Linked DNA regions of Homo sapiens. The protein of the gene in region 2 purifies or fractionates together with the protein of the main gene of each other region. This does not show direct contact. Each region holds a gene or a part of one and is shown on either strand. Other genes may lie near its edges.

The links.
Region 1: the proteins of POPDC1 (region 2) and DCX purify together in Homo sapiens (affinity purification with mass spectrometry; one large-scale study listed by BioGRID and IntAct). This does not show direct contact.
Region 3: the proteins of POPDC1 (region 2) and CPNE2 purify together in Homo sapiens (affinity purification with mass spectrometry; one large-scale study listed by BioGRID and IntAct). This does not show direct contact.

Annotation. Positions count from the first base shown.
Region 1 is NC_000023.11:111,328,550-111,332,205, forward strand, and holds part of DCX (neuronal migration protein doublecortin), read right to left. Parts: intron 2,493-3,656; coding exon 2,355-2,492; intron 1-2,354. UniProt on the Homo sapiens protein: Microtubule-associated protein required for initial steps of neuronal dispersion and cortex lamination during cerebral cortex development. May act by competing with the putative neuronal protein kinase DCLK1 in binding to a target protein.
Region 2 is NC_000006.12:105,096,312-105,099,303, forward strand, and holds the end of POPDC1 (popeye domain-containing protein 1), read right to left. Parts: 3' UTR 511-2,992; downstream 1-510. UniProt on the Homo sapiens protein: Cell adhesion molecule involved in the establishment and/or maintenance of cell integrity. Involved in the formation and regulation of the tight junction (TJ) paracellular permeability barrier in epithelial cells.
Region 3 is NC_000016.10:57,095,583-57,099,238, reverse strand, and holds part of CPNE2 (copine-2), read right to left. Parts: intron 1-3,656.

The DNA.
Region 1 (3,656 bases), on a different chromosome or scaffold from region 2:
GGGTTATATGGTGGTTTAAAAACAGATCTACAAATTCTTCAACACTCTTTCCTTTAATAAATAGAGTCTGGTTCCTCTCTCTTTGAATGTAGGTTGGACTTAGTGACTGCTTCCAATGAATATAATAAAGGAGAAGTGACAGTGTTGGCTATGGAGACTAGATCACAAAAGGCAATACATCTTGTTCTTTATTCATTCTCTTGGATCACAAACTAAGGTAGGAGATCTTGCCAACAGCCATATTGTAAGTGGATCCTACAGCCCCAGTTGAGCCTTCAGATGACTGCAGCCCCTACTAATATTTTAATGATACCCACATGAGAGACTCTGAGCCAGAACCACCTAGATAAAACACTCTAGAATTTCTTGCCCACCAAAACTGTGAGATAAAAAAAAAATGCCTTTTCTTTAAGCCACTAAGTTTTGGGGTAATGAATTTGTTTCACAGCAGGATACAAGTAATACAGGTTAGAAATCCCAGAAATAGCTACTGCTGTTTCTGAGAAATGATTAGCTAAGCAATTATTGCCAGACTTTATTAATCTTGACCAAGTGTTTTAAAGTGTATTTTTTGCAATTCTCTGCTTAAAAACTGTCAAATTTTATTCTCAGCCCAGGTGTTAAAACCTAGGTCTTTGTAGTTTCAGCAATATAAATTTGCTTAGATATAGATTTATGTGCTCTTCTGTACATTTGAACAAGATAGCATCAAGGCACATGTATTTTTTATTTCTTCAGCAAACATTATCTAAATGCTTGATTGGTCTCTAGCACCATGTTGGGTAAAATAGGTACTGTTGTGCATCTATTTATTCACAAATATTACTGGAGCATCTACTAGGGGCCAGGCACTATGCTCTGCACTGATGATATGAAAATGAACCTACCACATTACCTTTGAGGGGCTCAGCATTTAATTGGGGAAGTAGACAGGTAAACACATACTTGACAACACAGTGTGGTGAATATTACCCCAAAGATATGAATGGCATGCTATGGTATTGCAGAGACTGGAACAATTATCTCTATGTGAGGTCTTGAAGGATGAATAGGAGTTTTCAAGCAAAAAAGGCTGATGGGTTAGAGGATGGCATTCCAGGTATGGGGGAACAGGGAGTGCAAAGACATGGAAGTACTAAAAGCCTGGGTTGCCTTTTCATACTTTAATTTCCTCAACCCAAGAATAAAGAGATGGCTGGTAATATGCATGCTCCTGGCAGTCTGATGCAGGCAGTACAGGCTATTCATCTTGGCACCAGCATTTCATAGCCATCAGGCTACTCATGATGCCCCAAACTGAAGGGCCCTTTTGTTTTCCCAAGGCTCTCAGACTGCAAGAATTCTCATGATAAATTCTGAGCCTTGGGATGACAAATGTATAAGTATTTTGGACCATATAGTTTCCTTAGTGTGAAGAACCTCAAATTGTGCATAAATCTAAGCTTCTGAACTTGGACTTCTAAGGCCTTTTATTTTTGATATTTGTTATAAAAGAATGGAAGACATTGCCTCTTAGATCAGTGTCACTCAAACTGTGGGTCCAAGACAAGATAGGGTTCACATCAGAATGCAAATCAACATACTGCTGCCTTCATCAATAAAATCAGGCTCTGAAAAAAAGGCAGCTGAGCTAAATGGTTTGCTTAATGGCATAGTTTATTTACATTTGGCACAAGCTCCTAATCTTGCCACAGACTGACTGGTAATAAATAGTTCATGGGTTGGCAGTGATCAATAGACGACATGTTTTAGATAACTCACTATCCACTAAATAGAATCTTCTATGGCAAATCTCTTTGTTTTCTTTTAGAACCTGGTCTGTGCTTTACTTTCCGGTTGTGAGGTTTATACAATTTATCTTGTCCCCCTATTTATATGGCATATATATGTAGTGTACTTGTTTCCCTTTTTGTTTTGGCTTCTAATTACTTCAGAGTCAAATTTGAAGCTCAAGTGAGTCAACTATGTTGACACTTTGGGGTGTTGTTTTTTATATTCTTTTTCTTGATTCTGATTTTTAATTTCAGGTTTATGGTTAATTTGATTATTCCATTGAATATGTTTTTGCCACATGATGTTGAAGATGATGAAAATGATGACAACCATGAAAATAAACATTACAGCAAGCATAGACAATGGGCCAGGCTTCTGGTTTGCATCCATTTGAATGGAATAATGGTTGTAGCTGTGCCTCCATGACTCCAAACAAGTTTGACTGTTTTAGTCCCTGAATTGATAGAATAGGGTTTCATGGAGACACAGTGGTGTTCATGAGGAACTGATTCCTCTGCATGCAGAAAGTATTGTCCTCCATAAATGAAGTCAGCGTGCACAGTTAGGAAAAGAGCACTCACCGTCTTGGTCGTTACCTGAGTCAGCTGGAGACTTGCTTCGGCGCATAGGACCAGGGCTCTTGGCTGAAGTCTTCTGAGGTGTTGGGGATGCCTTTGGGCCAGCTGTGGCTGATGGGTTTCCCTTCATGACTCGGCATTCTGGGGCAAAAGGACACAGACAGCTTAGTAGAGGATAAAACAGGCTCAGCATGTTATCAGCCTCTGGAAACCGCAATAACCATCACAGGCCAAAGGACCTAAATGGGTCAGGACTACAATGTGGTCCTTATTATTAGTAGGAGCCATGGTTCTGGGGAGGGAGGCATTAGGGAAACCTTCAAAAGCCACCTGGGCTAAGCTAGGTGTTTAAGCCCCTGAATTACGAAAACAAGGGCAAGAGTCCATAAACAGGTCAAGTAGGCAATTAAATAGTCAATTCAATCATTTATGGACAAGCTAGCTATGTCTCAGAATAGCACCTATTGATATAATGTTTAATTAATTTCCCTGAATTAGAGATTAACAACTCAGAGGTTACAGCTACACAGATGAAACATCCATTGAGTAATTTGAAGGAGAGGTAGAGAGCTACCACTTACTATTACATGCCACACGTTGATAGACACATGATGGATATCATGTCACTTTATATAAATAAGCACTATGACCACCACCATCTTGCATTTATCAAGTTCTTTTCGATTTCCCATGTATGTTATTGCCATCCCTTATGGGGGGTTAATGAATAAATGGGCCAGCAGTGACTCTGCCACTAAAAACTTAAGAAAGCTTGCTGGTGTGTGGGAGAGTCTGCCAAATGTTCTTGTATTTGCCCTAGCCTCAGTCTGACACCTTTGGAACACCCTTTCTATGCAGGTCACTCAGCATCCCCTTCTATGGTCATTTTGGGCACTAATAGTGCTAATTTATTAGAAGGATTATTATTCTCATTTTGCTGATGAGAGTACAAAAAACTTAACCCCTTTGCCTAGGGCCACAAAACAAGAAATTAGTAAAACAAGGTCTAAAAGTCAAGTCCCCTGAGTTCCAGTTTAGTGCTCTTTCTACTACAGTTTTTCCAACCTTGTGCTGTGATGCACAAAGGGGAATCAAACAGCAGAGTAGAGGATATAGTCTCTCCTTTCCTTTAAACACTTTCTTGTTGCCTCCTACTTAAAGGTGCATTGAAATATAAATTAAACAGAAAGATTAGAGGAGCTTTTCTGGTAAATTGAATATTTTAGGAAACTGAGTTAAGCAGAAAGCCCCCTTTTGTTTGTTTCACTTCTTGTTTTGGTTGGTGACCTTTAGTGATCACTGTCC
Region 2 (2,992 bases):
CTTGCCACTCAAGGCCAAAAGATGGGCTGTCAAGTTTCCATTCCAATATCTAGGACAGCTGATGGGAGAAAACGTGGGTTTCTCAAAGAATAGAAAGACTGTCCCCCTCATCCACCACAGAACAGATCCAGGGAGGTTTTCTGACTCCTTCATGTGACTCCTCATATTGTTGAATCTTAGGAAACTAGAAGGGAGTGAATGTTCAGATGCAATAGAAAAAAAGCTGAAGCCCACTAAGTCCCATCAATAAAACTCTGAAGGCTTCTCCATTGCTGCATCTAGTCAACACTGTCTACACTGCCTTCTGGCCATTTTTTTTTTTCACAGTCAAAGCAGCCAAGATGGCAGGACCTTTGAAGTCAGGTATGACCGACCCACAAGCACCGCCCCTGCTGGTCTGCTCAGAATACAATGGCCTGCACCAGGCCCATCCCCACAACCTTGGCCTTTGGGCATGACATTCGAACAAGCTAGATATATGTAAGAGGAATGAAATAAAAAATACACACATTTTCTAAGTAAGAAATTTATTTGATCAAATGGCAATATATGAAGATATTTTAAACTATAAGGCTCTATCCAGACAAAAAGCATCTTTTTATAAAGTAAGTGTTATCAATTTAAATGGCACCTAAAATCAAAGAATGAGTTTCCTATAAATGTCTGTATAAAGCTTTCATAAAATCCTCATGTATTTTAAAACTAGGTTGCAAGTATAACAGAAAAACCTATAAATAGTACTTAAAAGCAGGTTTCTTAAAATTTATGACACCTACAGTGTGTCACTATAGACAGAGTATTCGGGGGGCTCTGTGACAATCAAACATGGCTGCCATGAGTAAGGGAGCGTGTCCCCTGATGAGCAGAACCGAAGCAGTGATTATGCCTCAGCCTCGAGCTCCCCGCACAGCATCCTACCATTCCAAATTCTTGGGACTTTGAGTTGAGTTGAGAATTACTACAAGAGGAGGTTAGGAAACCAGGATTGGAAAGAGGGAAGGGAGAGGAAACCAAGGCATGCCAGGATCAAAGATATCTATAAAGCAGCTTTATAAATGACCAAGAAAATGGGTTTCTAAAAAACGCAAAATGGTGAGGCCTTGGGGCTGCAACGTGGCATCTGTGAAGAGGACGACGCCACGCCCGCTGGGAAGGGCTGACCTGCATGCCAGGTGCTTGGCTTGGAGCCACCACACGCAACAGCATGAAACTTTCTCTGGAGTGCCAAGTCATTACCTGGAAACACTGGGGACAGGTCAGTGTGTAGCTTATACCAGCTTTCCCCAAAGATTTTTCCAGCAACCAAGTGACTCAGCAACCAAGTGACTCTGTCTTTGGGGCCGTGATGGGAGCTGACATGGAGGAATCTGCAGCTCCAGGTTCTAAGATCAGGAGAGCTTCAGACAAGTGGGAAAACCAGATATAAAGAGGGTGACATACACACACTGTTAGCAGCAAAACGCAAAGGTGTCCAATGATTAAAATGAAATTGAGTGATAGGGAGAAATGGAGAAGATTCCAGAGTGTCAGGGATAGTAACTGAAAATAATTATATAGCACCCATTATTACTAATTTAAGATATATAAGCATCACTGCGGATTTATATAGTGTCTATGCTATTAGTTTAGTAAATATAAATATTTATGAGGGCTTTCAAAATATTTTAAATGACATATACATTCTAATATAAATATTACACTCCAGATTCATACAACTGAGTTGATGTTACATTTAAAGTAGTAGATTTGGGGTTGTATATGGAGTAACTTTTGCAGACCATTTTCTGAACTTTGATCATTCAGCTAAGTAAAGGCCAAAAAACACAGGAAGCATCTTATTGGGAACTTTGGCAGCAAACATGTTTTTATCTATGTATTTATGCATTATACAAAGATACACTTATTCATTTGTATAAATGAATTTAAAGTACTCCATAGGAGATCTTACACTTAAAACACTTTTCTGTCTTCTTATCTGCTTCTTTGAGATCAAGTCTATATGGGAGGCTTCTTCCTTAGAGGTGTGTGTTTAAAAATAGTCTCACGTTTCCCATTCAGGCTAAGTGGCTCTTTTAAGATTCCTAATCTTGAGGTTACAATCTTCACATTGAGACACTGATACACACACATACTTTAATAAAAACAGCAAATGGTCTTATATCACCTACTTTTAGCAGTGTGCTTTTAAAACAGGTTTGTTCCCAGCATTACAGAAAATAATCTCCAAACACATGCATTACTTTCTACTCAGGGAAGGATGTTACATCTAATGACTGTATAGAGTGATTTTGTAAATTAGTCTTATGCGCGTGTAAACTAAATGGGCTGCCCAACTTAACCCCAATGGTTAAAGGAAAGTAGTCTCGGCACTATGACATCACAGTTACACCTGTGCTCTCAGGTACAGGGCGAAAGTGAGAGCGAGAGCGCACGAGAGAGTTCAACCTGAGAGAGCTTTATAATTTCAAGCCTAGGCTGTCATTCACCTTTGCTTCATTTCTCCAAAACAAGCTCCTAATTTAGCTACCTGAAGAGACTGCTGCAGCAGTACAGTGAAAGCAGCCTTTTTTTGAAATAGGGTCTCACTCTGTTGCCCAGGCTGGAGTGCAGTGGTGTGATCTGTGCTCACTGCAACCTCAACCTCCCAGGTTCAAGTGAACCTCCCACCTCAGCCTTCTGAGTAGCTGGGACTACAGGTATGTACCACCACACCCAGCTAATTTTTTTTGTAGAGATGGGGTTTAGCCATGTTGCCCAGGCTGGTCTTGAACTCCTGGGCTTAAGCAATCCACCCACCTTGGCCCCCCAAAGTGCTGTGATTACATGTGTGAGCCACTGTGTCCAGTCGACAGTAGCCTTTTTACTGTGATGTCAATAAACCAACATCTGAAGATGACAGGAACTGGATTCAGAGTCTGTGTAAATTTTCTCAATGAGTGACCGAGCATGTAAATTTAACTCAAATGAAATTACTACAATAATTGCTTTAAAA
Region 3 (3,656 bases), on a different chromosome or scaffold from region 2:
TGAAGGGGGCCAGAGAGAAAGGAGTATGTCATCCTATATGATTTCACTTAGGTGCCCTTAAACATGGACAAAACAAATCTATGCTGCTGGAAGTCAGGATAGCAGTAGGACACGTGGACGGGTGTTACTGACAAGAAGGGGACACCGGGGGCTTTGGTGCTGGTCGTGTCTGTTTCTGATCTGGGTTCTGGTGACCCAGATATGTTGGTTTGTGAACAGTCATTGACTGGTCCATGTAGAATGTCTGCTCTATTTCATGTTACACTTCAATGTGGTAAAACAAAAAACAAAAAACACCAAAACCAATAATCCAGGGACTCCTCTACAAAGCCCTTCCTATTTCCCTGGTCCTTGAGAGGGAATCACTTACAATATCAGCATACTGTAACCATTGGCTTAGAAGCGTCGCCCTCACTGGAGCTTAAAGATGGAACCAAACCCTGTTTCCATTTCGTTGCTCCCAACACCCAGAGGCACAGAATGGAAGCTCGACACAAGTTTGTTGAAAATGAGGAAGAGTGAAAAGGTGAGAGGAAGAGGAACCATAACATCTTGGAATTGTAGAGGCCCGGGACTAGAGGTTCACAGAATTCCAGAATTTGGGAATTCTGGGATTTCAGAGTCATGAGTTCTTTGAGTCTCAGAGCTAAAAGACTTTAGAGTTTATCTGGCCCCACTTTCCAGCCACACAGGAACCCTGGCCACAGCCTGGCTGCCCCAACATCCTGCATCCTGGTTCTGGTGGGCAGGGTCCAGCCACAAGCCTTATTCTCTGGGGCCCTTGCCGCATGCCCATTGCTGCACCAGCTCCTGCCAGGCGACAGGCAGCCCCCGGGGAGCAGGCTGGCACTCCTGACCAGGTGGGGGCGGCACCTTGACACAAATCATTTCTGCACCGAGGCTACGGCACCGGCTGCTGTGCTCCAAAGACACCACACTCCAACAGGCAGCCAGGCCATTACGGGGATAAATACAGATGCAGACAGCATGGCGAGGAGGCTGCAGCAGGGGTTGGCCCTGAGGCCCCCCTGGGGACCCCCAGCTTCCACCAGACCACATTCAGAGGGAGGTCATTCTCTGTAGTGCCCGCTTAATCACTAAGCTCTGGCTCTTAGGGGAGGTGGCTTCCCTTGGGACACCCCCACCCCCACCCTCCCAGGCCCCAGGTTCAGCTCATCCTGCACTGGAAGGTTTGTGTCACTTATAGGGGCTGACCTAGCAGGCTGAGAGGCAGCCTCCACTGTACTTCCTGTGAGTCTAGGGACTGGGTTTTGTCCTCTCCTGCCACTCCTCCCTCCTGGGCCTCAGCTCCTTCCCCTCCGGCCTCCCAGGAAGCTCCACATGGGGATAGGCACGGAGTGCTGTGGCTCTCCGGAGACTCTGAGTACTTAGGGGACCTTGGGAGTGGATCTGGCCAGGCTCAGAGGGCAGGGGACTCCCATGGAGGAGGGAATGGGGAAAGTTGTACGTCTGAGAGAAGGTGGATTTGCCTAGGACTGAAAGACTGGGGGCTGGGGAGGTGGAGGATGTGAGGTCCCCTGGGTGGGACGTCACCTGCTGCCACTGCCTGCCCACCCAAGGGACTGAGGTGTGCTGGAGAAAGTCACCCATTCCCTATGCAACCTGGGCCATGTGTCCTAACCTCTCTAGCCTCAGTTTCTTCATACAGGAAATGGAGCTGCTGCTAACTAGAGCTGTCCCCACTACTTTCTTCATGATGTTCTTAAGGCAGCAGTGAAAAGCTGGTACACTGAAGAGGGTTGTGCACAGATGTAATCCCTCTTTCACTTGGGACTTTGGGTCTCCACCTTCCAGGAGAGCTTCCCTCACCATGCAGCCATCCATTTGGTTGTTCAACAGATGTTTCTTAAGCAGTTCCTCTGGACCAGGGACTTTGCTGTGTGCTGGAGGGGCAACCATGATCAAGACACACTCAGGCTCTGGGCATAGGAGTTCGGGATGGAGTTGGGGGAACAGAGAGGTGAGCAAATGACAAGGGCAGGAAATCTCAGAGAGTGGAAAATGTCATAAAGAGAATAAAGCAGGGTGAAGTGATTGTGATAGGGCAGTGTGGAGGAGGCCACATTTGAGCTGGGATGTTAATAGACCAGGAGCCCCAGGAGAGCAAGGCATTGGTCTCTCTCGTTCATGGCTGTATCCCAGCCATAGCTGGTGCCCAGCAGGTACTCAGTGAATATTTTTGAATGAATGAATGAATGGGCTCCTGAACCAAGCTAGGCATGTCCCCACCACAGGGCCTTTGCATGCGCTGTTTCCTCTACCTGTTCCCCAGCATGTGTAAAGGCCCTGTGGTGTGGACATGCCTAGTGTGGTTCAGAAGCCCATTCTCCCTACAACTCTACTGTATCCCTGCAGGCTTTTGTGTCTTATCAGGAGCTGAGGATATCTGGCCTGCCTGATGTGCCCTGGCTGTCCCCTCTCTAAAACACAGGAGGGAATATGCCCAACTCCCAGCAGACAACTCCTGCAATCCCTCTTTCCTTTGGTTGGACCCCAAGTCTTTTTTTTTTTTTTTTTTTGAGACATGGTCTCACTGTTTCACCGAGGTTGGAGTACAGTGGCACAATCATGGCTCACTGCAGCCTCGACCTCCTGGGCTCAAGCAATCCTCCCACCTCAGTCTCCCAAGTAGTTGGGACTACAGGCATGCACCACAACACCCAGCTAATTTTGTTTATTTTTTATTTTGGTAAAGACGGGTTTTTGCCATGTTGCCCAGGCTGGTCTTGAACTCCTGGGCTCAAGTGGTCTGACTATCTTGGCCTCCCTCAGTACTGGGATTACAGGTGTGAGCCACCACGCCCGGCTCTCCCATCAGTCTTTCAGAGACATGCCCAACCTGAGAAAAGTGTATTGTAAGAGTGCAGTGAATGCTGGGAGCTGAGCTACTGGGTTTCAAACTCTGGTTGGCCATGGGCTAGTTGAGCACCACACACTGGATGGCTTAGATTCTCTCACAGTTCTGTAGGCTACAAGTTTGAAATCCAGCTGTCAGCAAGGCCATGCTCCTTCCAGCACTCAGTATGGTAAGCCAGAGATCCCTCCAGAGACTCAAGAGGGCAAGCTCGTAATTCTCCCAGGATCCATCACTCAACATCACAGACTCATTTAACAGGAGGCTGCAAAGAGGGGCAGGTGCAGTCATTCCTCACACAAGGATTTACTGAGCACCTACAATGTGCCAGGCACTGTTCTAAGTGCTGGGACATGGCCCTAAACAAGACAGACACTGTTTGCTCTTGCCTTTTTGTGGATCTGACACCCTTTGGGGAGGGAGGCAGATAAGCTGGTGCACCAATGAGTAAAGAAGATGGTTTTAAAGAGTGGCAAATGCCCCAAGAAAAATACAACCAGGAGATGCAGCAGTGAGGAGGGATGGTGACACAATCTCACTAGTCAGTCTCATTGCAGACCTCAGAGCAAGTGTGGCCAGATAAGTAAGAAATGTTCCATGGTCGGGCACAGTGGCTCATGCCTATAATCCCAGCACTTTGGGAGACCGAGGTGGGTGGATCACCTGAGGCCAGGAGTTCAAGGCCAGCCTAACCAACATAGCAAAACCCCGTCTCTACTAGAAATACAAAAATTAGCTAGGTGTGCACCTGTGATCCCAGTTACTTGGGAGGCTAAGGCAC